4 linked regions of the Homo sapiens genome follow. The protein of the gene in region 3 interacts with the protein of the main gene of each other region in a pairwise test. Each region holds a gene or a part of one and is shown on either strand. Other genes may lie near its edges. The genes, in order: TMEM229B, LRP10, GORAB and GIMAP5.

What was found.
Region 1: the proteins of GORAB (region 3) and TMEM229B interact in binary tests that used the Homo sapiens proteins (3 or more experiments, as listed by UniProt).
Region 2: the proteins of GORAB (region 3) and LRP10 interact in binary tests that used the Homo sapiens proteins (3 or more experiments, as listed by UniProt).
Region 4: the proteins of GORAB (region 3) and GIMAP5 interact in binary tests that used the Homo sapiens proteins (3 or more experiments, as listed by UniProt).

The regions. Positions count from the first base shown.
Region 1 is NC_000014.9:67,478,176-67,486,130, forward strand, and holds part of TMEM229B (transmembrane protein 229B), read right to left. Parts: intron 1-7,955.
Region 2 is NC_000014.9:22,874,060-22,882,014, forward strand, and holds the end of LRP10 (low-density lipoprotein receptor-related protein 10 isoform 1 precursor), read left to right. Parts: intron 1-995; coding exon 996-1,186; intron 1,187-1,271; coding exon of another isoform or gene 1,272-1,295; coding exon 1,296-2,313; intron 2,314-2,629; coding exon 2,630-2,759; intron 2,760-2,880; coding exon 2,881-3,468; 3' UTR 3,469-5,139; coding exon of another isoform or gene 5,140-5,142; 3' UTR 5,143-7,654; downstream 7,655-7,955. UniProt on the Homo sapiens protein: Probable receptor, which is involved in the internalization of lipophilic molecules and/or signal transduction. May be involved in the uptake of lipoprotein APOE in liver.
Region 3 is NC_000001.11:170,534,429-170,542,383, reverse strand, and holds part of GORAB (RAB6-interacting golgin), read right to left. Parts: intron 6,075-7,955; exon of another isoform or gene 5,963-6,074; intron 3,175-5,962; coding exon 2,817-3,174; exon of another isoform or gene 2,813-2,816; intron 1-2,812.
Region 4 is NC_000007.14:150,732,720-150,740,494, reverse strand, and holds the start of GIMAP5 (GTPase IMAP family member 5), read right to left. Parts: upstream 3,078-7,775; 5' UTR 2,991-3,077; coding exon of another isoform or gene 2,787-2,990; intron 1-2,786. Other genes in the region: GIMAP1-GIMAP5 protein, read right to left, coding at 2,787-2,990. UniProt on the Homo sapiens protein: Plays a role in T lymphocyte development and the optimal generation of CD4/CD8 double-positive thymocytes. Inhibitor of GSK3A, possibly by sequestering GSK3A in cytoplasmic vesicles and impairing its translocation to the nucleus.

The sequences.
Region 1 (7,955 bases), on a different chromosome or scaffold from region 3:
CGGGGCCCAGTGGACTTGCCTGGGCATATTCTTCTCATGGCAAGGGCAGAGGCACAAAGCTGAGCAAGGCTAGCTGTACAAGTGTGGTTCAAGACCCTGGCTAAGCCATGCCCACCATCATCCCACTGGCCAAGGGAAAGCCACCAAGTCAGCTACTAACTCCCACCCTTACCACCTCTTAAATATCTTTGGGATCCATCCCCTCCTCTTCATTACTCTTCTCATTGCTGCCACTGCTCTGGTTCACGCCCTCATCATGTCTCACCTGGATGACTCCAAAGGTCTCCCAGCTTTGCCTTCTTCCTTCTAATTCACTCATCACAGGATGAAAGAGTGTGTAGAAAAAACGCAACCTTTCTAAAATGCAAATCCGATGTTTCTCACCACTTGAAGCCCATGAGTGGATCTTCAACATCTACAGAGTAAATAAAGCTCAAACCCCTGGGGACGGCTGGCAAAGCCCTTCACAACTCGTCCCTGCCTCCAATCCTGTCCTCCAGATCTCTACCTTGCTGTTTTTGCTACCTGGGCCCCACCCAGGGCCGGTGAACCCTCCTTTAAGACCCAGCTCCTCCTCTGTGAGGACTTTCCTAAGCACCCTGACTCCAGAGTTGTCTTCCCACTTCTGCACCCTCCCTTCTCTGTGGTAATAGTGAGCACTCTGCTTCACTGGATTCATCTGAACGCCAGCACCAGCAGCCTCCTGAGGAATGCTTGTTTAAGATAGTGGTAAGAGAAAAAAGCAGGATTCAAAACTGAATATTCAACCTAACTCCGATTCTGCAAAGGCATGCATATGTGCACATATACAAAAAAATTAAACAACAATCATCTCTGGATGGTGATATCATATGTGCTTTTTTTCTTTATATTTTTCTGCATACTTTTTTTTCCTAACAAGCATGTATAACTTTTATAAAACTAAAATTTCATCTTAAAAATGCTTATGGAGGCTGGACGTGGTGGCTCACCCTGTAAACCCAGCACTTTGGGAGGCTGAGGTGGGTGGATCATGAGGTCAGGAGTTCAAGACCAGCCTGGCCAACATGGTGAAACCCTGTCTCTACTAAAAGTACAAAAATTAGCTGGGCGTGGTGGCGTGTGCCTGTAATCCCAGCTACTCGGGAGGCTGAGGCAGAAGAATTGCTTGAACCGGGACCCAGGAGGTGGAGGTAGCAGTGAGCGAGATCGTACCACTGCACTCCAGCCTGGGCTACAGAGCAAGACTCTGTCTCAAAAAAAAAAAAAAATGCTTGTGGAAGCTGGGTGCAGTAGCTCATGCCTGTAATCCCAGTACTTTGGGAGGCCGAGGTGGGTAGATCACCTGAGGTCAGGAGTTCGAGACCAGCCTGGCCAACATGGTGAAACCACATCCCTACTAAAAATACAAAAATTAGCCGGGCATGGTGGCATGCACCTGTAATCCCAGCTACTCGGGAGGCTGAGGCAGGAGAATCGCTTGAACCTGGGAGGCGGAGGTTGCCGTGAGCCGAGATAGCGCCACTGCACTCTAGCCTAGGTGACAGAGTGAGACTCCGTCTCAAAAAAGGAAAAAAAAATGCTTGTGGAATGAATATGTATTCACCGTATTCATACCTCGTGTATAGAAGGTGTTCAATGAATTTGCTAAGCAAATGAACCCAAAGAAACCTGAAGTCATGTAAAATTATTGCAGGCTCTTCCCTCCTGTGTCATCCAACAACAAACCATGCCTCACAGGTCTCAATATGGCCAGCTGGTTAAGTTCAGGGACCCCAGATGATCCTAACTGCCTGGGTTGGAATCCTGGCTGATGCTTTCCACCTGTGAGACCTAATGGACGCTGCCCAACCACCCTGTGCCTCAGGGTCCTTGTAGGTAAAGTGAGGATAACGGAAGTAATGACCACAGAAGGCTGTTGTGAGGACGAATGAACTCGTACATATACACTACTTAAAATACAGCTAAGGCTCCAGAAAGGGCAGCTGTCATTTCTGGCACAGAGCCAGACCTCTGGACAGCCCCTCCTGCTTTTACACCGCCTCTTACCCGATGCAGGGTCACTGTGCCCCTGCTCTCGGCAGCCTCCAGGCAGCCCTTCCTGTCAAGCAGGTTAGGTCTTCATCACAACCCTGAGCACCAAGCTAGCGAGCCAAGAAATCGGGTGGCAATAATAACCCCACATATGGCCCTCAGGAGAACAAAACTCCCACAGACATCCCGGGAGACTGAAGGTGAGCCTCCAGCTTCCCTGTGGCTACCGAGGGATGAATGGAAGAGGAAGGGTGTCAGAGCCAGCCCGAGGGGCAGACTTGAAAAGATGGTGGAATGAAAGGGGCACAGCCTCTCACCCCCTCATTTAACCTCCTACCCCCGGGCAGGAGAGAACAGATCCAGGCTCCAGGGGAACACACTGAGGCGGTCTGAGGGCCTGAGACAGATGGCACAGCACAGGGATGTGGAGACCTCTGGACCTCCTACCCCAACTCAGGCCCCATGACCTGCACGTATCCCCCTGGCTCTTCCAACCCCCAGGGCCCGGGCTGAGGGAACAGGAACCTCACAGGGGCTCTCCTGCAGCAGCCTGACATGACTGTGTGGATCTCATTACTCAGGCCAGACCCCAGCCTTGAAGCTGACTTTAAACCCTGCTCTTCTTGCCTCTGATCTCTCTGGGATGGCCCAGACCGGTTTCCCAGCTGGTAACAGACGGGAGGGTCCAGTCTCTTCCCCAACCCCAGCAAGTAACTTGGGAGAGTCAGATCCCAAAACCCTTGGAGCAGAAGCAAGAAGAAAGGGGTAGCTGTCAAAGGGAGAGAGAAACCTAGGGTGAGAGACAGGAAGTTGCTGAACAGAAGAGAGGATGGAGTTCATGCCTGCAGTCCCAGCACTTTTGGAGGCTGAGGTGGGAGAATAGCTTGAGGCCAGGAGTTCGAGACCAGCCTGGGCAACATAGCGAGACCACCATCTCTACAAAAAGAAAAAAAAGTAGGCTGGTTTGATGTGGTGTGCCTGTAGTCCCAGACGCTAAGGCAGGAGGATCCCTTGAGTTCAAGAGTTTGAGGCTACAGTGAGCTATGATTGTGCCACTGCACTCCAGCATGGACAATGAGCAAGACCCTGTCTCTTAAAAAAGAAAGAAAGAAAGAAAAACAAAAAAGCGAGATGGGGGAGAGAGAAATATGGTGTGCCCCAAGCCCAGATTCTGTTTCTGGGCAGCAGGAAGCCATGGGTAGTAGATGGAGGGGAAGCACACCACGGCAATGTCAGACAGTGTCCGAGGGCAGAACTAGGAGAACATAGCTGGTCCATGCAAGACCAACAGGGGAAATGAAAGACCTGAGTCAGGGCAGAAGATGGGGTTGAAGAGAAAGGAATAGGAGACAGTGTCATTGGCTGAGGTGGCAGCTCCCAGTGTGGTGGGGAAGATGATAATATTAGAGGCTGGGCATTGACTTGGATGCGTTTTCAGAACCCCACTCTCCAAACCCATTTCTAATCAGCACAGGAGCTGTGCTTAACTTTGAGCTAGGACAGGCTCGCCCACCCCATACAGGGCCTGACAGGCCTCTATTCCCTGCCCCGGCCTCCACCCACCCGACTCCCTATATCCTTAGGCTCCTTCCACTAGCTCCTTGCTCAGCCCTGGGATCAGAGCCCTGGGAAAGCCTGCTGCAGGGAGAACCGGCAGCTCAGGGGACCTTGGCTTCTTTCTCCTGGTGACAAACAAAACTGTCCTGAGACCTGTGACATGAAGATAGGACAGCCCAGGAACAGAAATTCAGGGTGGATTGAAGAGGAGGAGAGTGTGAGCAAGGTTGAATGCAGGAGGACAGAGTTTGGAGAGCAAAGGATAGCTTCACAAGCAGGGTTTCATTGAACAACATTCAAATCCGAGAGTCCTCATACCTGATGAAAGGGCCTGGGCAAACAGAGTCCCATCGAAGGGCCAGGACTCAAGGTGACTTGTGAGGTCTAGGAACTACCCCTTCAAGGGAACAGGTGATGGGGAAGGGGAAGGGGATCTGGCTTTCAGAGCCCTGTTCACTAAGAGCATCTCACCGGCTGCTCTCCGAGCCTGCTGTTCCACAGGGTGGCAGGGGACATGGCCAGCAGTTGAGAGGGGTAAAGAGGCTGCCATAAAAGTCTAAGACAGGCTGAAGGCAAAACCAGATGGAATAACTGCCCTTGGTTTTGTCAAAAACTCCCATCTTGTTTCAGGGGGCTAAGGTGCCACAACACAGTGACTCTGGGAATTTTTGTCCAGAGAAGCATCTGGCCAGAAAATTGGGATTCCCCTCCCATGCAACCGGGCTGGGAAGGCCTTCCGCTTTCACTCCACTCACTTCCCAAGCTTCACTCCCCATCCCCAGCCACCCCCATCACTACAGTTCCATGTTCTGGGGAGACCCACAGCCCTTCTAGGAGACCCCTGAGGCAACGCAGCGGGGGACAGCTTCAGGAGCCCTTGGGCGGCTCTGTGCTGAAGATAAGTGGCTTCAATGAGGAAAGGGCAGAAACCTCCCTGAACTTCCCCTGTTGTCATCAAGTTAGCAGGGAGGAAAATAGGGCTTGCCCAGGGCCAGAAGGGAAGCAAGTGGAGGGAAACTCCTGTAGCCACTGGCTGGTGCACATGCTGCAGACTTCCACCCTCTTGCTGTGGGTGCCCCCCAAGGAAAGCCCCTGGGATTAGTGATACTGCAGGCCTTGATGAAGTCCTCCCTCCACCTCCCAAGTCACAGTAATAATAATAACCAGGTGCTCTTCTCAGTATTTCCATGTATTAACTCAAAAAATTCTCAAGCCCATTTTACAGATGGGGAAAGTGAGGCAGAAAGAGGCTACGTTCTTTTTTTGTTTGTTTTTTGTTTTTTTAGATGGAGTCTCACTTTGTCACCCAGGCTGTAGTGCAGTGGTGTGAACTTGGCTCACTGCAACCTCTGTCGCCCGGGTTCAAGCAATTCTCATGCCTCAGCCTCCCAAGAGGCTGGGATTATAGGTTCCTGCCACCACACCCAGCTAATTTTTGTATTTTTAGTAAAGACGAGGTTTCACCATGTTGGCCAGGCTGGTCTTGAACTCCTGACCTCAAGTGATCTGCCTGCCTCGGCCTCCCAAAGTGCTGGGATTATAGGCACGAGTCACCACACCTGGCCGAGCCTACATTCTAATAACTATAAAAGGCAAGGCTGGGATTCAAACCCCACAAATCTGGTTCCAGAGTCTTTGCTCCTAATCAGCACACTGCACTGCCCCCGAGGCTGACTGCAGGCTCCTCTGAGGGCACTACCATTTTCTGAGTTCCTGCTTCTGGAAGGCTGGGATGGTATGTGGAGAGACAACAGGAAGCAAGGAGAAGGTTGTGAACTTCTAGGTGGTTCATTAACAAACTTCCCAACTGGGTGTCAGAGTTCCTAAAGGCTCCCAGCCTGTTCCTCGGGATCCACACAGAGGCCCTCCAGGGTCAAAGCTGACAGTCACAGGACCATGACAGCAACCAACCCTCAGGCCCCAAGGCATGCGCCATTCAAAGGCCCCTCACCAGGACACACACAACCCAGAGGCCCCCTGACTGCCAGCCCACACCAGTGCTCCTGGGAGTCTCAGATGGCCCGGCCCAGCCCTGCCATGGAGACACCAGCCAAGAGCAGGGGCCAGCTGCCCAGAGGAGCAACAGCCAGCATGTCAGGAGGAGCGGTCCGAACACAGAGGATTTCAGGGGGCCTCAGATCCCAAGCAAACCGCAGCAGGAGGCAGGGCAGGGTGAGTGGGCTTGGGGGATGGAGTCAGTTCTGGCACAGAGGTCCCTGGGGCTCAGAAAGCGAAGGATGCCCTGCACGGGGGACTGGCAGGCTGGCATCCCAGACCTGTATGTGGCTGCCTTGCTGTTACCATTCAGATCTCAGCTGAGCTGTCATATCTCAGGGACTTTTGATCCCCAGTCCAAAATAGCCTCTCTGTCACTCACATCATTCCATTTTATTTTCTACATAGCACTTTCACTTTCTGATATGTTGCTACTTATTTATGGTCTGTCTCTCCTCAACTAGAATGAAAACTTCATGAGAGCAGGGGCACTGTCTTGTTCACTGCTGTTTAGTCAGTGCCTAGAGTGGTGCCTGGCAATAATACCTAGTAATACTTGTGGAATGAATGGATGGATGAGTGGGCCCAAACAGGCCCAGGCCCTTAAACACTGATGAGGGCAGGTATAAACAGCTAGCTGCCTCGGTCTCTCTTCCCTCCTTTCTTGAGAAATATAGCCTTCTAAAACATTTAATTCTAGCATTTAATTTTTTTTCTAATTATAAAAGCAACATGTGCTCACAGCTGAAATTTAAACATTACAGAATGACATAGAAAGCAAAAGTTCCCTGTAATCACACATCTTAGAGAAAGTCACTATTAATGGTATGTTGTGTAGTCATCCGGATTCAATTTTATTTTTTAAAAAGCCAATCCATGCATCATAGAAGAAGCATTCATAGGCCGGGCATGGGGGCTCACACCTGTAATCCCAGCATTTTGGGAGGCTGAGGCGGGAGGACTGCTTGAGCCCAGGAGTTTGAGACCAGCCTGGGCAACATAGTGAGACCTCATTTCTAATAAAGAAAAAAAAAGAAAAAGCACTCATAATTCTGAACTAACAGCGATTACCATTTCTCCTTTGCAATATTTTCCTATGTGTGTATTTTACAAGTCACCATAATATACTTATTCTGCAACCTGCCATTTTTACTTGTCATAACTGTTTTTCCAAGTTGTTATATAGCCTCTGTGCTCATTATTATAATGGCTGTGTAATATTCCAGCAAGCGGAAAACTGTAATTTACTTAACCTAGATGTCCAAAGGGAACAGTTGTTTCCCATTTCTACTACTACAGATGATATAACGAGAATTACCTTTAATGCCTGTAATGGAAGAATTCAGCCCTTTTCTTCTCTGGTACTATTTCCTAATAATATATCTTAATGGATAATTCCAGAAGGAGAATCACTGAACCAAACGGTACAACAGCCTTAAGGCTGATGGCATAAATTGCTCTGGGGAGATGTGCCTCCCATCTGAGGAACGACGTTCCCACAGAGGCACCCATGGCCATCTCTTTACCCCCAACTCCCCTCCTACAGTCTAGGCTTGCTCACACCACCCTGGCTACAAATCAACTCAAGAACACACTTCCTGAGAAACTCTCCAGTCAAACTGACTTTGTAAGCCCAGGCTGAGTGGAAAACAGATTCTGGCCCTGAATTATAAACTGTCAACTAGGAGAGTCAAGATCTACCTAAAGTGGAAAAAGACCTGATTACCCCTTTTCTACTCCCTGCAAATTCCTGCATGGAATCTGAAGCTCTGGGTTCCCATGGACCAGCCTAGGAACTCCAAAAAAAGCTTGTCTGTTCAAGATTGCAAAAGCCCAGCTCTGCCTGCCATGCCTTCTGGGGAGCTTCCTTCCTGCAGGCCTCTGATCCCACCAGGCTACGGGCCCTGCACAGACATAACAGCCTTCAGGCCAGACAGGCCTCTGGGGGTTGGGAAAGCAGCCAATTGTCATTTTTTAAGGCATCATCAAGGAAAAGCCAGGGGCTGAGGCTGGAAAGAAAGGCCTGTGAGGACAGGCAGGGCTGTGCAGTTAGGAGCCTCTCACCCTACCTCGAGCTTGTCTCGCTGAGGAGGAGATGCTGCTGCTGATATGTGACAAAAGCAAGAGGACATGCTCCTCCAGATCCCCTGGTGGTCACTCTTATGGCAGCTAAGGCTCACAAATCCCCCCACCTCCCAGGGCCCTGGATGCCCTACTCCAGGCCTCCTAGACCAGCAGCACATGCATTGCTCATGGCTTCTGGGCAGAGTCCAGTCCCAGGTGATGCATGGTCCTCACTGCACAGATCTGAAGCCTGACGGCCAAAGTAGATGCTGTTTCCCAGGTGTGAGTGCTCGCTTCACTCACGCCAGACAATCTGAATGATATGG
Region 2 (7,955 bases), on a different chromosome or scaffold from region 3:
CATTCATTGCATGTCCTGCCTGAGATTCAGAACTACTCCTTAATCAGCTTAGAACATCCCTCAGCCTCTCTGGATCTTTTAAACATTCCAAGTCACCCCAGGCTCCCCTGACCTTGGTCATTGTTTGGGGATCATATTAAGTACCTGGCTGTTTGCCTCACATAGTTCATTTTCCATGAATTTACCCAGAAAGGGGTAGGCAAAGAGAGAGGGCAATCTGTGGAGAGGCTGGTGGGGCAAAGGGATCAGAATGCCATGGAGAACCAATCCAGGTCTCACATCTGGCACAGTGGGGTGGGATAAGATGGTGAGTTCTGGTTAATTGAACTGTATGGTAATCACCAGTTACTGCTGGTACCATACTTGGGTGACAGTGCTACAACAACTGGAATGCAGTGCACCTCTTCTTAACTCAGTCCCAGAACACAAGTCAATTTTTCCAAAGGGCTCTAGGATATATTTTATGGTCTCATGGCGATACCATGAGGTATTCCTACCATGTTAGGAAGATCCCCATTGACTACATTGACTTAAAAATAATTTGGCTGCCGGGCATGGTGGCTCACGCCAGTAATCCCAGCACTTTGGGAGACCAAGGCGGGTGGATCACCTGAGGCCAGGAGTTCGAGACCAGCCTGACCAACATGGTGAAACCCCATCTCTATTAAAAATACAAAATTAGCCAGGTGTGGTGGCGGGCACCTGTAATCCTAGCTACTTGGGAGGCTGAGGCAGGAGACTCACTTGAACCCAAGAGGTGGAGGTTGCAGTGATCCAAGATCACACCATTGCACTCCAGCCTGGGTGACAAGAGTGAAACTCTGTCTCTAAATAAATAAATAAATAGGCTAACTGAGTTTTCATTTGGCCATTTAGATCATGGATAAGCAGATGTTTATGCTTCCTGGGACACAAGGGGCCTGGTGGCACCAGGGGAGGAGAAAGCCAGCAGCAGTCAAGAGTATCTCATGTCCTGCTCTCCTCTACTCCCATAGGTTCCAGAAGCTACACCTGGCCTGTGGCTCAGAGCGCTTAACCCTACGCTCCCCTCTCCAGCCACTGATCTCCCTGTGTGAGGCACCTCCCAGCCCTCTGCAGCTGCCCGGGGGCAACGTCACCATCACTTACAGCTATGCTGGGGCCAGAGCACCCATGGGCCAGGGCTTCCTGCTCTCCTACAGCCAAGGTAGGCTGGACAGGGATGTCTGAGGAGCAGGCAGTGAAAGCCCCAGGCAGAAGGGGAGGATCCTGAGGGTTCTGGTGCTTCACAGCCCCTCTCCATGGTGCCTCTGCAGATTGGCTGATGTGCCTGCAGGAAGAGTTTCAGTGCCTGAACCACCGCTGTGTATCTGCTGTCCAGCGCTGTGATGGGGTTGATGCCTGTGGCGATGGCTCTGATGAAGCAGGTTGCAGCTCAGACCCCTTCCCTGGCCTGACCCCAAGACCCGTCCCCTCCCTGCCTTGCAATGTCACCTTGGAGGACTTCTATGGGGTCTTCTCCTCTCCTGGATATACACACCTAGCCTCAGTCTCCCACCCCCAGTCCTGCCATTGGCTGCTGGACCCCCATGATGGCCGGCGGCTGGCCGTGCGCTTCACAGCCCTGGACTTGGGCTTTGGAGATGCAGTGCATGTGTATGACGGCCCTGGGCCCCCTGAGAGCTCCCGACTACTGCGTAGTCTCACCCACTTCAGCAATGGCAAGGCTGTCACTGTGGAGACACTGTCTGGCCAGGCTGTTGTGTCCTACCACACAGTTGCTTGGAGCAATGGTCGTGGCTTCAATGCCACCTACCATGTGCGGGGCTATTGCTTGCCTTGGGACAGACCCTGTGGCTTAGGCTCTGGCCTGGGAGCTGGCGAAGGCCTAGGTGAGCGCTGCTACAGTGAGGCACAGCGCTGTGACGGCTCATGGGACTGTGCTGACGGCACAGATGAGGAGGACTGCCCAGGCTGCCCACCTGGACACTTCCCCTGTGGGGCTGCTGGCACCTCTGGTGCCACAGCCTGCTACCTGCCTGCTGACCGCTGCAACTACCAGACTTTCTGTGCTGATGGAGCAGATGAGAGACGCTGTCGGCATTGCCAGCCTGGCAATTTCCGATGCCGGGACGAGAAGTGCGTGTATGAGACGTGGGTGTGCGATGGGCAGCCAGACTGTGCGGACGGCAGTGATGAGTGGGACTGCTCCTATGTTCTGCCCCGCAAGGTCATTACAGCTGCAGTCATTGGCAGCCTAGTGTGCGGCCTGCTCCTGGTCATCGCCCTGGGCTGCACCTGCAAGCTCTATGCCATTCGCACCCAGGAGTACAGGTCAGTGGGAGTGGGGCTGGCAGTAGAAGAGTAGACCCTGAGGGTGAGGCTGGGCTGTGCAGCTACAGGAGACCACGAAAGTGCCCACCTTGGGGAGAGGCTCCCATGATCAGCTTGTCAGTTGTGTCCTGTAAGGGACAGGTCCAGATCCTGAAAGCAGTTTCAAGGGAGGAGGGACCTCAGATGACCTTTGGGAAAGCCATGGCACAGCTCCAGCTGGCCTGGCCCGGGTGTGGAAGTGGGAGGACTGTCCAGGCTGAGGTGGTCTACTCTGGCCGAGAACTACCAGTGACTGAGCAGTCCTCATTCCTTCTAGCATCTTTGCCCCCCTCTCCCGGATGGAGGCTGAGATTGTGCAGCAGCAGGCACCCCCTTCCTACGGGCAGCTCATTGCCCAGGGTGCCATCCCACCTGTAGAAGACTTTCCTACAGAGAATCCTAATGATGTAAGTCACTCCCCACAACCCTAGCACCTCCTGGTCCCAGTTCTGCTGTGGCCCCGCCCCTGTACCCTCCTTCATTCAGCCTTTGGCCCTCTGACTCTGAGGCCTCCTCATTTCCTTGCAGAACTCAGTGCTGGGCAACCTGCGTTCTCTGCTACAGATCTTACGCCAGGATATGACTCCAGGAGGTGGCCCAGGTGCCCGCCGTCGTCAGCGGGGCCGCTTGATGCGACGCCTGGTACGCCGTCTCCGCCGCTGGGGCTTGCTCCCTCGAACCAACACCCCGGCTCGGGCCTCTGAGGCCAGATCCCAGGTCACACCTTCTGCTGCTCCCCTTGAGGCCCTAGATGGTGGCACAGGTCCAGCCCGTGAGGGCGGGGCAGTGGGTGGGCAAGATGGGGAGCAGGCACCCCCACTGCCCATCAAGGCTCCCCTCCCATCTGCTAGCACGTCTCCAGCCCCCACTACTGTCCCTGAAGCCCCAGGGCCACTGCCCTCACTGCCCCTAGAGCCATCACTATTGTCTGGAGTGGTGCAGGCCCTGCGAGGCCGCCTGTTGCCCAGCCTGGGGCCCCCAGGACCAACCCGGAGCCCCCCTGGACCCCACACAGCAGTCCTGGCCCTGGAAGATGAGGACGATGTGCTACTGGTGCCACTGGCTGAGCCGGGGGTGTGGGTAGCTGAGGCAGAGGATGAGCCACTGCTTACCTGAGGGGACCTGGGGGCTCTACTGAGGCCTCTCCCCTGGGGGCTCTACTCATAGTGGCACAACCTTTTAGAGGTGGGTCAGCCTCCCCTCCACCACTTCCTTCCCTGTCCCTGGATTTCAGGGACTTGGTGGGCCTCCCGTTGACCCTATGTAGCTGCTATAAAGTTAAGTGTCCCTCAGGCAGGGAGAGGGCTCACAGAGTCTCCTCTGTACGTGGCCATGGCCAGACACCCCAGTCCCTTCACCACCACCTGCTCCCCACGCCACCACCATTTGGGTGGCTGTTTTTAAAAAGTAAAGTTCTTAGAGGATCATAGGTCTGGACACTCCATCCTTGCCAAACCTCTACCCAAAAGTGGCCTTAAGCACCGGAATGCCAATTAACTAGAGACCCTCCAGCCCCCAAGGGGAGGATTTGGGCAGAACCTGAGGTTTTGCCATCCACAATCCCTCCTACAGGGCCTGGCTCACAAAAAGAGTGCAACAAATGCTTCTATTCCATAGCTACGGCATTGCTCAGTAAGTTGAGGTCAAAAATAAAGGAATCATACATCTCAAAATTTTGCAAATTAGCTGCGAGCCTGAGCCCCGCCTCTGCCCATCTCAGTCTATGCTCACCTCATCCCACTCCTCCCTGTGGAGCCCTTTGCTTGGCCCTCTACCTCCTGCCCTCTTCCTGTTCATCTCCCAACCACTGCACTCTTGATTTTTATACCACACAGAAGGTAAGAAAATTCTAGGAACCCTAAGGATCAATCCTCTCCATTTTCACTCAAATGCCTGGGGCCCAGCTCTGCAATGACTGACTCCAGGGCCTCTTTCCTCACTGCCAGCATAGAAGTCAGGGGAGCCAGCTGGGCCCTGCGGTCAGGAAGGTTCTCATTTTTGGAGCATACCCTGAGCCCAGATCATAGGAGCAGCTGTCCCTGGTGGGACACAGGAGTCATGACTCCTACCCTCCACCCTCCACACCCACCAGGCATTTAGCAGTCTGTCCTATGCAAGACAGATGAATTCTCAGCCAGGATACCTCAAGGCAGGCAAAGGTGAGTGGAGGGAGAATTCACAAACATTCAGGGTGTGTGGTGCTGGCATCACCATGGCCAAATCCAAGAGGTCTTCCTGGAAGAGGGCCCAAACTGGAACCAAAAGAATGCTGTCAGCAGTTGGAATAGAGCTGTGAATTCTAGACAGGGGGAGTGTCCCCAGAACAAGCAAACGGAGGAGACAAGAGGGCAAGGGTTATAGGAAAGACCCTGGGCCTGAGAGCACAAGCAGCGGCCAGAGCTGCAGCGCTGGGGTGGGTGATGGAGGGAATGATTCGCAAGCAGTGTTGGAACCCAGCCCCTAGTGAGCAAAGTGACAGAAGCTGCCCCAGAGTTTGGAAGGAAGATCGAGGCAGAAGATGTAGAAGGAAGCTGTGGGGGTGGGAGTGATGCCTCAGGAACAAAACTGAGGAATTCCCTAACGGACCCAGTCCCTGGGGAAAGAGGCTCCCCTCAGGCTCTCCTTGTCTAGCCCCACACCTGGCAGAGCCTGTCACCCAGCCTAGCCCCACGCCTGGCAGAGCCCATCACCCAGCCTAGCCCCACACCTGGTGGAGAGGCCCTGTTGATTACACCCTGTCAGCCTCCTCAAACCCAGCACTAATTGCACAATTTTCCTCTCTTCTAGTGAGCAAGAGCCTGAGGAAGTAGCAGAGAGGGGTGTGGGCCCATGTGCAGTTCTGGGACCCTGGCACCTTGGCTCAGGGAAGACCCGAGCTCCTTTCACTGCAGACCCTCTCCAGAGACTGGGGAGAGGGCTCTGGAGAACCTGGTTCTTGCTTACTGTTCTCCCTTTGGGCCCTCCTTCCCAAACGCAAACAATCCAGGATCCACTCAGCGTCAGGCCCAATGGAAATAGTGAAGCAGTGATTTTCCCTCCCCTGCCTCTCCATAGCCTGGTCTTTTGCCCTCTCCTTTGCTCTTCTCTTCCCCCATAGCCACCTCAAATACCTGCAGCCTGATATCTTCATCCCTTCATCCAGACCTTTTCTCTCCTAGTGGTATTGCAAACTGAAAGTGGACAAAGACTTAAGGTAAACCTGCTCCTCATGGTGGAATGCTTCCAAATGCTGGAAGGAGGACTTTAGGGCAGAGTTCACTAAGGAGGCTTGTGCTTATAGATCAGTGGGCCTGAAAGAAGTTTCTCTAGGTTCTGGTTGTGTGCTGTACGAGGTGTAGGTAGTAATAATACTCTTGTCAGCCACAGTGAAGCCCCAAGCTAGCCGGGATAGGGGACTGACCTTGTACAGGCAGCATGGAGAAACTAAGACAGAGTGTCCTGCCCAAGTGATGGCACTGGGGAGCAGTCACTCAGGTTTATTTCCACCAGGGCCCAAGAAAAAAAGAAATGAGGCAACCTAAAATTCCATCAAGATAGATACCAATATCCAAGGTGCTTGGTCTTAGCGGTGTGGGACCCACGTTAAGGCTCTTGGTGGGAAGGTGGGAGGTGTTTTCAGCATGAGATAGGGTTCAGGCTGTGAATCAGAGTCTAGAGCCTAAGATAAAAGAAGATACCAGGGCTGGGCCACGGTGGCTTTCGCCTGTAATCCTAGCACTTTGGGAGGCCAAGGCAGGCAGACTGCCTGAGCTCAGGAGTTCGAGACTAGCCTGAGCAACACGGTGAAACCCTGTCTCTACTAAAATACAAAAAAGTAGCCAGGTGTGGCGGCATGCACCTGTAGTCCCAGCTACTCGAGAGGCTGAGGCAGGAGAATTGCTTGAACCCGGGAGGCGGAGGTTGCAGTGAGTGGAGATCGCGCCACTGCACTCTAGCCTGGGTGACAGAGCGAGACTCCTTCTCCAAAAAAAAAGAAAAGAAGATACCAGAACTCAGTCCTTAAGAAACAAAATTCTGCCAGGCGCAGTAGCTCACACCTGTAATCCCAGCACTTTGGAGGGGCCAAGGCAGGCGGATCGCTTGAGGCCAAGAGTTCAAGAACAGCCTGGGCAACATGATGAAACCCTGTCTCTACCAAAAATACTAAAAATTAGCCAGTCTCACAACCTGGTCTCAAAATAAATAAATAGATTTAAAAAAAAAATCATGGGCCTGAACCAAGCTCCAGACCTCACTAGGAGGGGAGAAGGACCCCCCAGCCACACAGCCCAAGGCTGCAGAAGCACCTAGGTGGTTAGAGAGTGAGTGCCTGGATGGGGCGCAGTGGCTCACACCTGTAATCCCAGCACTTTGGGAGGCCGAGGCAGGCGGATCACGAGGTCAAGAGATCAAGACCATCCTGGCCAACATGGTGACACCGTGTCTCTACTAAAAATACAAAAATAAGCTGGGCATGGTGGTGCGTGCCTGTAGTCCCATCTACTCGGGAGGCTGAAGCAGGAGAATCACTTGAACCTGGGAGGCAAAGGTTGCAGTGAGCTGAGATCGCGCCACTGCACTCCAGCCTGGCAACAGAGCGAGACAAGACTCCATCTCAAAAAAAAAAGTGAGTGCCCGATGATGCCAGATTCTTCATCACCTGAAGTGAACCCACACAACAGGGCTGGGCCATGGGCATCATAAACCCCATTTTGCAAGCTCAGGAGGAGCTTTAGGGAAATCAGAAGACTGGCCCAGTCTCTACCAAGTGGTGGATTTAGAGCCGGCATGGCTTCGTTCCAAATCTCACCCTTGTCCCACCATTCCATGGGACCTCCCATTCCTGAGGGAGCCTGGATACGGGCAAGTGCACAACCCGGGAGGTTGAGGTTACAGTGAGCCATGATCGCACCACTGCAGTCCAGCCCGAGCAATAGGGTGAGACCCTCCCTCTGAAAAAAATAAAAATACTCATTTTGGAAGGAAGTCATTCTAAAATGTTACACTTGTCTTCAGCATATCTGCAATATAATAATTTTCTGCATAACTGAGGATCATTCACAGAAACCAATGGCTTTTCTCCAGCAGTGTCTTCTGAAGTTGTAACAGTAGGGGCACGGGGAGCTATTTGCTTTTATGCTAAATGACCTTAGACCACTTATAAAATGCATATGAGTGCTTTAAATGTTATTTTGTGTGTGTGTGGTGTTGCCTCCCTGACTACAAGGGGTCACTTGCTACTCTAAATGTGTTTCTAATCTACTAGTACAGGAACACACATGGACACGTTAAAATTGTGAATAAAAGTAAGTAAAAAGTAAAAGTAAGTAGGCCATGACTGAGGACTGGAGAATCTACCCAGTGAGTAAAGCACAGGAGTATTTTAGCAGCTGAGGGGTCCTTTCTGCTCCCTCAAACCCTGCACTGTTGCCCTATAGCTGACCTCCAAATAAGTGAAGTGTCACTGCACATTGTTCCCAAGATTATTCTTTGCCTCTTCCATTGGAAGAGTCCACTGAGGATAGCAATATAGACTGTTCCCAATAATAGGAGACAGTTGGAATATTTAAGAGAAGGAAAGCTGCACAATGTAGAAATGAAAAATCCTTGGCACTGGAAAGATG
Region 3 (7,955 bases):
AAGATTTATGTATATGTTCTTTCAAAAGTCCTCTTAAAAGAAACCCATCTGCAGTTCATTATTTTGCTCTAATGGGAACAAAGACTACGATCTAAAGTAAAGAGGCTTACATAAATTGGACCTCTGAAATCCATTATATATATAATCTAGGAATCCACAAACTGGAAGCCAGAATACTGTGGCATGTGTTTAGGAGTACAAAGAAATTTGTGTAAGTTAATTATGTATTATATGCAGAATGGAGATTAATAAAAATTGGTTTGTAGCTGATGTCATATTATTTATACCTTTTAGAGTTTTCTATAAAGTCTCCACCACCTTAACATGTTTCAGACAATAACCAATGTTTATTTCATATATTAATATTTTCTTTCAATTTGCTCACTTTTTCCCAACTCTTAAGACTTTTTTTTGTCTTTCTTTTTTCCTTTTTGTGGAGAACAGGGTGTCGCTATATTACCCAGTCAGGTCTCGAACTCCTAGGCTCAAGCTATCCTCCCGCCTCTGCCTCCCTAAGTGCTGGGATTACAGGTGTGAGCCACTGTGCCCAGCCCAACTTGGACATTTTTAAACAAAGTAAAACACTAAGAGCTAAGACTGGAATGCTGGGCTAAAGAAAAAAATTCAAAGATGTGAAAACATGTATTGTCTTACAATCTGTCCAATTCTAAAATAAATACATTAAAATTTCCCATAAAGTCATGAGCTTGATGTCAACTCAAATTAAACAAGGTATTGGCAAAGCTATTTATTCCTATTACTGTCACTTCTTACAGCCATTATATCACATACCTCTATTCCCAAATCTAGTAGCCCCTTCCAAAATTGTCCTTCTCTCTCCATTTCTACACCTTCCACCTTAGTGCTGGGACTGGTCATTTCTCACTTTTACTACTGCAGGCATCTCCTCACCAGGCGCCTTAGTTCCACAGCTCACTATGCACTCTCTTGCATATGATCTACAATATTGACACCTGGGATTTCTCTAACCTTTATTTTGATTGCGGCCTTTAGCCCTCAGAGAGCTTCATGGTAACTTGCTGCATTAGTGAACTTGCTAGGAAGGAAGGCATCCCCTGCTTCCGATCCTTTCTCATTTCTTTAATTCTCTACTTATTCATCCCCTGCTTCTGCTTCTGATCCTTCCTCAGTTCTGCTTTTTTTTTTTTTTTTTTTTTTTGGGACAGAATCTTGCTCTGTTGCCCAGGCTGGAATGCAGTGGCATGATCTTGGCTCACTGCAACGTCCACCTCCCAGGTTCAAGCAATTCTTGTGCCTCAGTCTCCCAAGTAGCTGGGACTACAGGCATGCACCACCACGCCCAGCTAATTTTTTTGTATTTTTGGTAGAGACAGGGTTTCCCCATGTTGGCCAAGCTGGTTTCAACTCTTGGCCTCAAGTGATGTGCCTGCCTCAGCCTCCCAAAGTGCTGGGATTATAGGTGTGGGCCACCACGCCTGTCCTCCTTCCTCATTTCTTTAATTCTCTACTGTTCTCTGGCTTATCCTTTGCCACCTCTCCCAGAGAAATGAGGTATCATCTCTGAACATTCTCTAGGACACAGCTTTCCTTTCTCCTCCTTAAAACCTCAAAATTTCTCCTTTACGTGAATGGTTTGAGGTTACAGGTCTTTTATGAAAATTCTTCCAAGTATCCAAAAAAAGAATAAGTTTCCCTATAACATCCAATCCAAATTGTCCAGCTCAATGTAAACTTACCTCCTATTTGTCTCCGGCCTTTGTTAGTAAACTACACTTAGAGACACTTTAATGTATGCACTTGTTCAATATAGGTTTCATAATTCATGTGGTTTTATAACTCTTGTCAAAATGATTTCTTAGTTGTAAACCCCTAGTGGACAGGAAACATTTTAAATTCACAGGATAGAATCTGGATCAGCAGAGATTAAAAAGATGTCAGAGATTAGAAAAAAAAAAAGATACTTTGAAAAGAACTCAGAAAAGAGAAAACAGAAAAATGTCATTCCTTCTCTGTGAGAGATAAATCAGGAGCAAACAAAGAAATAAGAGTATATATTAAAACACAAGCTATCAAATAAAAAATTCTAAGAATTTGCAAATCAAAAAATGGCATCTTCCACAAGAACAGTGTAGCTAAATTATGAAGGTTGTTTCTAATACAAAGACAGTAAAGAATAAATAAAAAGAAATCTAATGATGAACTGAGTTATATCATTAGTCCCCTAAATTTCCTACACTCTCTCCTTTGACCATCCCTTCACGTCTCTCCACAAGTTCCAATTTCTGGGCCAATGGAAATAGTCTGGAAGTTGAAAAAAGGGGTCAATTTGGGCAGAGGCACTATGCATATAAGAACTGCTTCTGAGCTGTGATTGCGCCATTGCACTCCAGCCTGGGCAACAGAGCGAGACTCCATCTCAAAAAAAAAAAAAAAAGAAAGAAAAAAAGAACTGCTTCTGCTCAGTGTAAAAGGCATAAACTTTGGATCCAGACAGACTTATCTGTAAATCTCTACTATTTACTAGCAGTGTATTAGCTTTAGAAAGGTATCATCTTTTCTGAGTCCCAGATACCTCATGTATAAAGTTTAAATAATAAACATGCATTGTAAGGCTGTTATGAAGACTAAAGAACATAAAACATACAGAATGCCTGTGTCCAGCTTATATTTAGGCAGTAGCTATTTTTCAATAGTTTATACATCACATTCCTATGATTGAATGAATATAAAGGAGAGAAAATGTTAAAATAAACAAATTATATTTCCTTAAAGCCCATTGGGAAAAAACGGGTTAAATGAAAAGTCTCATGGACTTTTCACATAGACTTACTAACAATTCCACTTTCTTTTTCTCCAATTTGCAATCTGGCTTTGGAGGTAGAATCTCAACATTGTTGTGACCATCATGGGAATTCTCAAGTCCCAGTTCCTTTGGCTGACTTTCAATGCCCTGTGGTTGTCCATCACCAACGGGGGAGGTGAGAGTGAAATGACTCGGAAGAGTAGGGGAAGAAAAAGGTGGTTTTTGAACGTTAACTCTCTGTTTTGGTGCTGAAAGCAGCTGCTCTGGAAGTAATGAGGTTGATCCATCTTGAAGCCCAAGTTTTTGGCTTTGCTCTACAAGGGCTTTTTCTCGCTGAAGTTGTTGTCGACTTTTCTTCGCGGGGAGACGTCGCTGTGGTTCAAATGGATCTATGTAAAAGAAAATAGAGGAAAATTCCTTTGTGTGGGCAGCAAATAATTATAATTCCTCTAAGAAAATAAAAAATTAACATTAAACGTTGATAATTCTAGTGGTTCTCCTACCCCATTCTCTATCTTGAAAGTCTAGGGGAAAAACAGCCATCTTCCTGTAGAGTTTCAATAGTTTTCAGATCATAATGTTAATATTTAACAGAAACTGCCCCATCTCTTAATTTATCTTCAGAGAAAGTCCATCAGTGAGTTAGGCCTTAGGTCACAAAGTGAAGTTTCTTTTTCAACTTGATTTCATAGTTGTCAAAAGAAAGCAACTAATTTTGACCAAATCAGGGAGGTGACTGAATTATCTGGTTTTAAATTTGATTTATGGTTCTGTCTGCTCTACTGAAACAAAATGGTGGTTGCATTTTCAAATGGGATTACCCTCTCTTAAATTTTAACAGCTTTTAGGGCAATTTGGTACATATGTGATACATATTCAGATGCTATAACAGGCATGTAATTGAGTGAAGTCTCTTATTTCTAGGAATGCTAGTTAACCTTAAATTGTTGTCTTTCATCCTACAGAACAATCCAAGGTTGTACTCCCCGAAGCCTAGTCAGGCTCTAATCAATGCATTCAAACTGATTTTAATAGTAGCCTCAGTAAAGCAATAGAAGATAAAACAACTGGGGGGAAATATCTTTAAAGTTATAAATAATAACACTTCTATTATACTTTTTGGACTGTCCATGCCAGTGTTAACATCTTAGGGCAGACAATTGGAGAATCTGACCCACATTCATACTATATTTCATAAGATCTATAAATAGCATTCTCTCTTAAATGCCTGGGAAGTGAAGTTATCAGTTCTTGTAAATGAACAACTCAAATGGGACTTTCAAATTTGGCATATTGACTTTTGAAGCAAAACAAGCTTATTATTTGAATTTCCCAAAGTATAGTTAAAAGCTCTAGAGTCACAATTCCAGCTTTGCTTCTGCCCAGCTCAGTGACCTCAGGTAAGTCAATTATTTATTCAATACCTTAGTTTCCTCATCTATCAAGCTGGTTGAAAATTAACCTGCTCTACTTAATGCATGAAGTTGGTGTAAGAATTAAATGAGATATGTACAGAAAATATTTTTTAAAAGACTGAAGTACTATCAAAAGCAAATGTTATTGTTGACTTTAGCCAGAAACACAAAGTATCCTGTATCTTGCAACAGGAACACATTCTTGGCTCTGATCTTTATTCACACCATCAAAAAATGTCACTTAGCCTGCTTATCTCCCTGTTGAACTCATTAGCTGAATTATTAATAGTTCCTCTGAAATTCAGGTAGTAACTTCTATTTTATTTTGCATTTTTACAGAACCTACCTATAAGACTGAAAATGCTAATTTTAAACAATAAACAATAAGCAAATCAGGCCACTTAAACACAGAACATATTGCTTCCCACACTCTGTATTAGGGGCTGCAAATATCAAGGAGACTGTGGTGAACTGAGAAGCGTAAGTCTAGTGTAAAGGGGGCAAATTCCGAGTCACCTTTAGTCAATTGCTATCATTAAAAAATTTAGGTCACCATAGCCAGATATTTTGATTTTTATGATTACAATTTAGACTTTTATGTAAAATATCTTGATTTTTAAATGTAGGGAACTGTTTCAATCAGGAAAATCTAGATTACGCTGTAGGGGCAAATCTTAGTGGTTTTAAACCACAAAGGTTTATTTTTCATTAATGCCAAGTGCCAACTAAAGGCTAACAGAGAGGTTCTGCTGATTAGTCTCTCAAGGCTCTAGGCTGACTGTACAGTCAGTATTCAGTGTTGCTGGCCACCACAACACAAGGAGAAGAGAGAGGTCAGGAAGGTCTTGCTATAGCAATTAACTGCTGACCCAGTAGTGACATAACACTTCTGCTCACAATGCAATGGCTAACCTAGTACATGGACCTACCCCCAAACAAAGGCAACAGGTATAGCTGGCTTAGCAAATAACACAATGATTATCACCATTATTAACTAAAAGAAATGTAAAGATTGGATAAAAGAAAGAGAGACAAAGAAGAAAGAAAGGAATGAAAGAGGGAGGGAGGGAAGAAGGGAAAGAAAGGAAGGCAGGCAGGAAGAAAGGAGGGAAAAAAGAAAGAAGGGGAAAGAAAGGAGGCAAAGCTGAAAAGCCACATACATTTTTGGGTTAAATTAAGCTAATGGGCTACCAGTTTGTGATATATACTCCATATCCTTTATTTAAGCCCTGCTCCCTCCACCTCAGAAAACTATCATTTGAATCATATGTTGATTATTCTCTTCCTTCTCTAATAGTCATATTGCATCTACAAATATTTCTAAAAAGTATTTACTTAGTTGTTTGACTTTATAAAAAGGGTTTTGTGCTGTACATCTGTTTTACTTAATATTACACTGTCAATAGTCATTCATATTGTCTATGTTTCAGCAGTCATTCATTTTGTTGTATAACATTTCATTGTGTGAATAAACCAGAGTCTATTGATCTTCTTCCACTGATAGACATTTAGGTTGGTTACAGGTTTTTGCTTTTGTAAATTTCAATAATGTGTCTCTTATTTTACATGTACAAGAATTTGCTTTGGATATTATCTAAGAACTACTGAGTCACAAAATATAACTTTAGAAGAAATGTGAAAATGCTTTCCAAAGTGTGCTCCCTCTAGTAATGTATAAGATCCTGTGGATGCACTTTCTCTTCAATACACGATACTGTCAGATGTTTTAATTTTTGTCAATCAAATGGGTGTAAAATAGTACCTCACTGTATTCTTGATTTGTAATTCTCTGCTCCTTGGTGGTGATGAGCATCTCTTCATATTTCCTTTTCTAGGAAATATCTATTCATGTCTTTTGTTGACTTTTCTTTTGTCTTGTATTTTTTATATATCAGCAGAAAACAATTAGAAAATACAATTAAAGAGAATATATTTCAATACCAGAAATTATTACTTATCTAGGAACAAATCTAACAAAAAGATGTTTAGTACCTCTATAGGGAAAACTCTAAAATTTTATTGAGAATTTAAACAAGTACTAAATAAACGGAGACATATACCACGTTAGTGGCAATGTTAATAATATGAAGATGAAATTGATCTAAAGATTCAATGCAATTACAATCAAAATTCCTAATGGGTTTTCCATTAAATTTGGTAAAATTATTAAAATTTTTATATGAAAAGATAGAAGGTCAAGAATACTGGCTGGGTGCAGTGGCTCACACCTGTAACTACTATACTAAGTATAGTAAGAAACTAATTTCTTAAGACATGGAAATGTTGGCTATTAAAAAAAGGTTGACATATTTGAATACATTAAAATTAAGGCCTGGAGTGGTGGCTCATGCCTGTAATCTCAGCACTTTGGGAGGCTGAGGAAGAATTTCTTGAACCCAGGAGTTTGAGACCAACCTAGGCAAAATAGCAAGATCCTATCCCTACAGAAAAAAAAAGAAGAAAGAAAGGAAGAAAACTAGCATGGTGTAATGGCACACAGCTGTAATCCCAGCTACTTGGAAGTCTGAGGCAGGAGGATCGCTTGAGCCCAGGAGTTCAAGGTTATAGTGAACTATGATCGTGCTACTGCACTTCAGCCTGGGCAACAGAGTGAAAGCCAGTCTCAAAAAATAAAATACTTTGTTCATCAAAAAGATAAAAGTGAAAAGATAACTTAAAAACTGGGAGAAGATATTCATAATGTAACTGGCAAAGAATCAGTATGAAGAATAACTCTTCTGAATAAATAATTTAACTAAAAATTGACAGCATGTGGCTGTACTGTTTTCTTCCAATTTTTCATTATGAAATAGACCATACATCAAATATATGCATGTGTTACACTCATAAACACACACACTCAGTCTTCCAACCTATATGATTAAAAAGAAAGTTTAAGAAATAAAATATGACAGTAGTAGAAGTAACTACTCTTTAAGGATAGACATAATCCTCCTTTTAGAAGAGAGAATTTATTTCCTGTCTCCCAAGTTATATGACTTGCTTTTGGTAAATAAAAGTAGGAGTGTCACATGTCATTTACTGGTGAAAGGATTTAATTGCCAATGTTCAATTTTCAATCTTCTTTTCTTCCTACTATGGTAAACTCCTACAAGACAGCACCAAAAAACGGAGTGACTGTGCAACACAGTCACCTGCCAAACCCACATTAAACATGAAACGAGTGAAAACCAAATCTTTATTTTAAACAATTGACTTATTAGGGCTATTTGTTACTTTAGCTTAACTTGTCTTAACCTGATTTCATAAATACCAATACCTCTGAAATTCCCTCTCCCTGATCACATTCCCACGCCTCCCCACTATATACAATCATACGTCACTTAACAAAGGGATACATTCTAAGAAATGTGTTGTAAGGCAATTTTGTCCTTGCGCAAACATCAGAGAGTGTATTTACACAAACCTAGATGGTACAGCCTACTATATACTTAGGCTATATGGTACAGCCTTTTGCTCCTAAGCTCCAAACCTGTACAGTATGTCACTATACTGAAGACTGTAGGCAACTGTAACAACGGTATTTGTGTATCTAAACATAGAAAAAGCATAGTAAAAACAGGGTATTATAATATTACCAGACCATCACCATATATGTGGTCCGCTGCTAACTGAAATACTGTTATTGAGTGCGTGACTGTATATATTATATATACAGCTAGCTGATCCTTGGTATATGAGGATAATTGGTTCCAGGATCCCCATGTATACCAAAATCTGTGCATACTCAAGTC
Region 4 (7,775 bases), on a different chromosome or scaffold from region 3:
GAAAAAAAAATTGCCTTGCTGTAAATAAGATTGGTTTATTTGAAGTAGTGGAAACTTCCAGTCCCAGAAAGTCTTTGTGTCAAATGGACATTCCAGCGGCGGAGAGGAAATTACAAGGTACTGTCCAGTGGGAGGATGGAAGTGGGGATCAGGGACACGAAGAACTGACGTGAGAGGAAATGGTATAGGGGGACCGGTATGACCGCTTTCCCACCCTGACGGTTGGTGGAGAGGAGGTAGTGAGGTGATTGAAGAGAAAGAATCAACTTCAGGCCGAATTCAAGAACAACTCATTGCCTGCTCCGGGTTTCCAGCATTGTGCAACAGTATTGGGGATGTACATTTTCCACGTGACTGGTTATTGCCAAATATGACTCCCAGGGAGTTGAGTTAACTCCTATTTGCACCACCCATTTATAAGAAGTCCCCAAATCTTCACAGGCACTTAGTAATATTACACTTTTAATTTCCTGTCATCCTTATGGGCATAAATAAGGATGTCTTAATTGGCTTAAACTTACATTTTACTGATTATCATTAAATTAAAAACAGTTTTCATGGTTTATTTGCTATTTTGGTAATTTATAAACTTCAATTTTTAATAACTTCTGTGATTTCTATCTTTTCCACATTTTTCTATTCATTCAGTGGATTTTCTTGGCCTTCTTTAGGTCAAGAAATCTATTTTTATATTATCAGAATGTATTAAGACAGCTTCCTGCCTCCCTCCCTTTCCCTTCTTTCTTTTCTTCCTCCTTTCCTCTTTACCCTCCCCTCTCTCCTTTCTTTCTTTTTCTTAAGCCCAGAGAAGAACATTTTCCTCTCTCCCACACCCTGTTCTCGTCTCTGGTAAATTATGCTTCTGGCTTTTGCTAAAATAGCACCAGTTCCCTGACATCCTCTCTACTTTAGATGACGTTTTCTGAGGTTTGGAATCAACATAATGATGTGGTAAGGGTCAAGATGACAGTGGTAATGATATTGATTATGAACATCATAATTGTAATAAGCCTCTGTGAATACATTTATAATTTTCAAAGTTATTTCATCCTTCTTATTTTAATTGCTCTCTCAAATTCCCTGTGATGTGATCAAAACTGATCTTAAAATTTCTATTAAAATGCAAGGAAACTGAGCATTAAATGACCTGCCAAAGGTCACATATTTACAATGGAGCTAGCATCAGGAAATGGCTCCTTTTGCTGTGTATTGTCCTTGATTCCACAGGTGGAAAAAGAGACTTTTCCAAAAAAGTCAACAAACCTCTTGGAACATGTGTACAATGCTGCCACTCCCTGGTCAGGAGACAAATTAATTGGACAGCTAGAAGCCTACCCTAAAACCAACACACAGAATTTTATTGCAAAATCTTGAGTGCATTTCTTATAAAAGGTTATTCAAAAATAAAATTGCTGGTGGCAGGAGTTTCTCTGAATTGAGGTCTTTTCTTTTAAAACAGCCAATTGCCTGTCACAAAAGCCAGTCAAACTATGTTATGTTAGCCAATGACCAGCAACAATAGCTCTCCCAATCCAAGCTTTCTGAGTGGATCAGGCTGCATTGAGGAATACATTTTTTGGCAGATATTCACAAATAACAAAGTGTTCACAGGTGAGTCAGAAAGGATACTGATGGCAATGCTAAAATGAGTCATGGAGAAGATTATAAAAGAACTGAATAGAGCGTGGTGGACACACCGTAGGCTTGAAGGAATGTGATACGTGTTGGTCTACAGGGCAGACAAAAGTGGAGGAATTGAGAATGAAGACAGGCGTCTTCTCCAAAGGAAAAATTTTACTAATCGTCCCACAAAAGAGACCAAAGTTCATGAGAGATTGGAAGGCAGTGTGCAAGCAAGACAGTAGCAGCCTCTGGCAAGCTGGTGGGAGGGTCTGGCTCAGGGAAAAGGGTGAAGCAAATGAACAAAATGCACATTCCGATTTGAAAATTGCATGAACCTGATTTTACCATGAGAAGAGCTTATTTTAGCAAATTACAAGAAAGCAGCCTCTTCCATACTATTTTAGAAAAGATCAAACCACTTCTTGTCTTCCTTGTTCATAAGTATCTCCTTCACCCATCTGCCCCAGCCCATGTATTTCCAGGTATTGGAATCATGTGTTTTGCGGTTTGGTGTGCGTCCGGCAGGGTGTCATAGGAAAAATGTGGGGCATCTGGGGGAGCATGGGGTAGTTTTCAGAAGTTGAAAGTCACAAGACAAGGTCCACTCAGGGGTCTTGTTTGGAACATGAGGCTCCTGGGGTGGGAAAATATCCCACATTTGCCCTGGGGAGCCCTAAGAATCCATCCTCAGCTCCCAGGCTTGTCTGAGACATGGTACGTGTCTGGCTGGTCTGGGACAGGAGAAATTAGGAGGGTAAAATTGAGAAGAATGCCCCGGCATGCTAGGGGAGATGGGGGAAAGCCTATCACCCTCTGGGAGCTTCAGTTCTCCCATCTGTCCCACTGATGAGAGGATCAGTTCAGCCTTACTCCCTGAGAGTTTCATGGAGATCGACTTGGCTAAGTAATGGGCAATGGGGCAGCAAAGCCCGCTGTCCTGGGACTGGGCTGTGAGTGCAGGCACAGATTCTTCAGGCTGTGCTCCACCAGCTGTGCACCTGCTGATGCCCGCAACACTCATCACCATTGCCCCGTTTTACTGACCAGCGAACCCAGAAGTGAGGGGATCTGTGCAAGGTCATGTCAGAAATGAACAGCTGTGACCAAACTGTGATCCTTTCAATTCCCAAAGTCTCTGTGAGCATAAACCCAGTTCTCCTTACCAGAAACGGTTGTTGTGCCCTGTCCTCCAGGGTGGCAGTCACTGAGGCTCTGGCCGCTGGTCCTCTCTCAGGAAGGTGAAGTGGCAGCAGAGAGAGTCCTGCTCTGCGTCTGTGTGCGGGGATGCTGTTCACAGGGCTGAGGGAGGTTGAGCAGACGCAGTTAAGGAGGAGCCATGTGCTGGGGCTGAAAGCTCCATGACTCAGCTGCACAAAAAGAAAAGTAGAGATTATGGAGTGTGTCCCCCACACCTCTGCGGACTAGGACACCCTGGTGTTGGCTGGAAACTGATTGGGAACAAGACCCTGAAAACCAGCCGAATGCAGCGATGTGCTGCTTCCTTAACGGGTCACTTCCTGTCATGAGCCTGCCCTGGGACAGTGTGCCCCATCCCATTTCCTTTTTTTTTTTTTTTTGACTGTTTCAAGCAAGCAGTATTTGGAAGAAGGAGATATGAAGGGAATTACAGACTCTCCCACTTCCAAGTTCAGAAAAGGTCCCTAGTGACTGGAAAGTTCTGGGCAGCAGCTGCTGCCCTCAGCACCCATCACCGGGGCACCTTCTCCTCCCAGCACTCTTGGGCCCCTTCTCACAGGCTCTGCTTCTGGAAAGTTTCTGCTAACCAGGATCAGAAAGGCACTCTGGTCCAAAGAGGACCAGAACAAGCCCTTGCAGGGTTTGACTCTGGGCTCGTGACTGACCCTGGTAAGCTGTCTGGCACGTGATGGAGCCCACCCTGTGGGGACATTGTGGAGTCTACGTGTCAGTTTATCTGGTAAGGGTTGAAAGCAGGGTGATAGAACCTCTATTTTTGAATTGATTGCCATTTAAGGCTAGAGCAGTGGACATAAACCTGATTGCCATTTAAGGTTAGGGCAGTGGACATAAACCTGATTGCCATTTAAGGTTAGGGCAGTGGACATAAGGCAATTATGCGATGGAGAACACAGTGGGACTTAGGCGGAGGGCCGTCATGGCCCAGAGAATCCCCATATCCTTTTCTGTTGACATTTGAAGTGGGGCTTACAGTCATATGGTAACAATTGTCTAAGACTTGATGGGAAAACAATTTTAAACAATCTCCTGCTAGCCCAGAAAACCTCTCCACAGAGGCAGAAGAGAAAGAAAACAATTTTATTATTGAATGTCCATTGAACCAGAATGTGATCTGGATCCCAGACAATCCAGGAAGAGATTGCAAAGACGGAGAGGGATGCCACCTGGTTATACAGCCAGGCAGGTGCCACCTATTACACACGTGTTCTCAAGTTAAACCATAACTAATCCTCAAGTAAGAGGACTTGACAGCACCCTTTGACATGCATAGTTCATCCTAAATTCACTCAGTAATCATCTGTGTTGGCTAATTGTCTTTCCAGAGGAAAAGTAAACTTCTCACATCCTCTATGGCAAGAGGAAGATTTGCAACTCAGAAAGGTGCTGGCAGATGTCAGGCTCCTACCTAAGTTAGGCTCCTAAATTAGGCCCCTATTTTCACACAGAGACTGGGAGGTGGGGACGCTACCTTCCTTGATGTTTGCATTTCAAAGGGATGGCTTCCAGATGCTCTACAGACAGCCCTGGGCTGTCAAACAGCTTTTAAAAAGATTTGCATTACAAAGGGTAGAGAAAGATTTCACACTTACAAGGTTTCTAAAGAAAATGCTCTAAGAAGGGAGGGGTAATTCTTTTCCACTTTGTTTTTTCCCCAGAAAAGAGAATTAATGTTTTCTCCTTATTTTTGATTTTTATTCGCCCTTACATTTTTAAATTCTTCAAGGACTTTCAACCTAGTCAGCACTCATAATTTATGTGAATTGAGCAGAGCAGGGCAGAAAGTGGGCTGTAATCTGACCAGGATTTCACCCTTGCTAGATAGGGACCAGGTACTCCCCCAGCACCTGGCTGGAATCTTTCAAAAACTTGACCAACAGAGTTCACATCAAAATCTTATAAACAGTGAGGGGCACCGAAGCTAACCATTCCCATCAATGTAGCAAATTCACTTAATTCTGGCAACATCTTCAAACTCCTTCTCTTCTTTCCTTTTGGTTTGAACTATTTGCAAACATTATTTTTATCCACTGAACTGGGTGCTCTGGCACCCCAGCTAAGGACTGATTTTCTGCTTTGAGATCTGTTCTCTAAGTCTTATCTCTTCTCTAGCAGTTCCCAGGCTCCTCTTATGGCTCAAAGAGACCCCAGGGAGTCAATGATGAAATGTGTTAACTGGTCTCTATCAGTTTTCTGGGTGAGATCGTGGGCTTTTTAGAGGCCAGGGACTGTCTTTAGGTCAGGATCTTGCTAGAACTTAGCCCTAGAAAGTGCTCAAAAATACTTACTGAGTAAATCAGTAAAACATACAACTTAAATGCTCTAACTCTTCCCTCATGTCCCCTTTTGTAGTTACATTTAGTGCTAGAAGAATAATCTTAGGTAGCTACTTTCAGAAAGTAGGGTTGTAGAAATTCGTATATATCCAGATATGAAAGGATTTCCAAAACTAGACTCTTTGTGCCTTTTTCCACACCCTCTCTATTCCTCTGTTCAGATTTGCAAAACAAACAAACCCCCAGGAAACCTGGGACACCGAGGAAGTGGCCATTTTCCCTACCCTTCTGTTTGACACCAAATTCAATCCCTTTTCAGCCTGGACAGAGACAGTTCTCTACCAAACCTGACATAGTACAAAATATGATGAATCATTACTGAAAGCATGTCTCTATCCATCCCCAGCCACCTCTGCTATCCCTGCTTTCTCTCTGTGATGCTCCCTGGTGCACAGAACTGAGCACGCTGAGTTGCAACTCATGTGCTCTAGCTATGTGATGAAGTTTCTGGAGTTCTGAGTGCAGTAGCCATCTCAGAGTAGATACCTGTAGGCTGCCCTGAGAATCAGCTTTATTAAGCTGAGGAGATGCCAAAGCTCCATCTCGGAGACATTTTGGGCAGCCACCTTCCCTACCAACTTGGAGTGATTCAAGGACCCCTGGGTTCATGCCTTGGACCTTCTGTTTGAAATGGGAGACAGACAATTATTGCCTTCTGATGAAGGAGGAAGGGAGAATGAGGGAAAGAGGAGGCATGGCATTTACCACTTTCTCCTGAGCCACTGGGCTGAGGTCCTAGGTGACCAACCGCCAACTTGCCCTGAATTTGACTGGATTTAGTACTACAAGGCCCACGTCCTGGGAAACCCCTTAGTCCCAGTCAAAGTGAGCCTGTTGGTCACCACAAGGTCTCCTAACTCTTAGTCATGCTTGCTGTCTTTCACCATCTGGCCTCTGTCTCTTCATCCATCATCTCACCCTATTCCATGAAGGTCTCCTATGAACATGACTAGTGGGAAATGTGGAAATGAAACCCCAAGTCAATGTTGGGAGGCCCTGAAGCCAAATGCTGAAGTGTGATTTCTCTTCCTTGTCGGTAGTCACTCTAAAAAAAGTTCTTTCTTGGAACTTTTTTTTAGAACATTGTGTTCTTACGAAAATCAAAGAGCAGGTAAAAGATGCTGAAAAAAAGTATTAAAATGCAGGCATTTCTATATTATCAACATTATTATTTCCTTTGTGTCTGGACAAGGTCATGGCTACTCTTTTCAGGGCTGAGAGGGTCCAGGTCAGGGGCGCCTCTAATTGGAGGTGAGGAAAGGAGCCTCCTGGATCAGGGTGCTCTACAGAGACCACAGCTGCTGAAGAGGCTTCACGGTGGGGGCGGAGATCATCTAGGGGTGAATCCAGGAGGTAGAGTTGAGGATTCAGAAACATCCAGGTCAATAAAAGGGGCCACTATTTGAGCCCACAGTTGACATACAACATGGAGGAAGGATTAACGATGCCATGAAGTACACTCTAAGTATCTAAATATTGCATCTTTTGAAGCAAATTTACCCTATTCTCCTGAGCCTTTGCACCACACCAGACCTAATGGGTGGTAAGTCCAGACAGCACCCATGGGAAGCAGACAAAAAGCCACCCTCGTAAGGAATCTGAAATCTTATTAGAGAGACAAGACTTATGCAAATGAAAGACAATGAGTAAGGGTCCCAAATGAATGTTTTGGACAAGTGTATTTCATACACCCCATTGTAGAGCATCAAAACATGAAATAGAGTAGAATAGAAACTATCAAAATTAGTCACACAAAATATGAGTGTATGTAAGCTCTGGGAAGCAGTATAAAACTGAGGGTCATGGTAAAAAATACATGATAGCACAGTTTTAGACAATGTATTAAGCAGGATTTTGGGAAGAAAAGAGGTCAAAACGGACCAACCCCAAGGAGAAAGCCCTGAGGTGTGGAGTAGAACTTGGACATGTGATCAAGGTTGACTGGAGGTGGAGAAGGGGCCCTTTGAAGCGGTTATTTTAAAGGAAGCAGAGAGTATGTAGGTGTCAGGGCAGGACAGTGCCTAGAGCAGGTTTAAGAGCTTGTTGTCATGACCTCTGGAGTTGTCTGGGTAGCTGATGTCTAGTTGTCTAATTCCATAGCATTGCATTTAGAGTAGAACCTTCACCCATTTAGTTAGCTCAAAAGGCCAAGAGGGAGCAGCAGGACTGAATGCATGCCTTGACGCTCTCCTCTAGTTGTTTATTAGATGAGTTAGATGAGGTCCAGATGGGATGATAAGGTCCCTGAAGATTTCCTGGCTGGCACCATGGAGGACAGCTCCTGTTGCATCTGGAGTGGGGTGGACCCTCCTGAAAGCCTAATGAGACCCTCCTCTACCCTGACATTATCACCTGCAACTGAATGTCTCCTGGTGAGCATCTTGGGATCCACAAGCTGATATCTTCCTGTCACGAATAATGTTTCTGAGCTTGCTGAGGTGTACCCTCACCAGGCTGATTTCCTTTTGAGTCATTACATTGGAAATTCTCGGCCCTTGAGCTGTCTATCAATTATAGGTTTGTTGAGATATTTTCCCCCTCACCCTTCAGAGGGGAGACAAAGAGCCCCCCAAAACCCCAAGGTGGCTCGAGGCCTGAGAT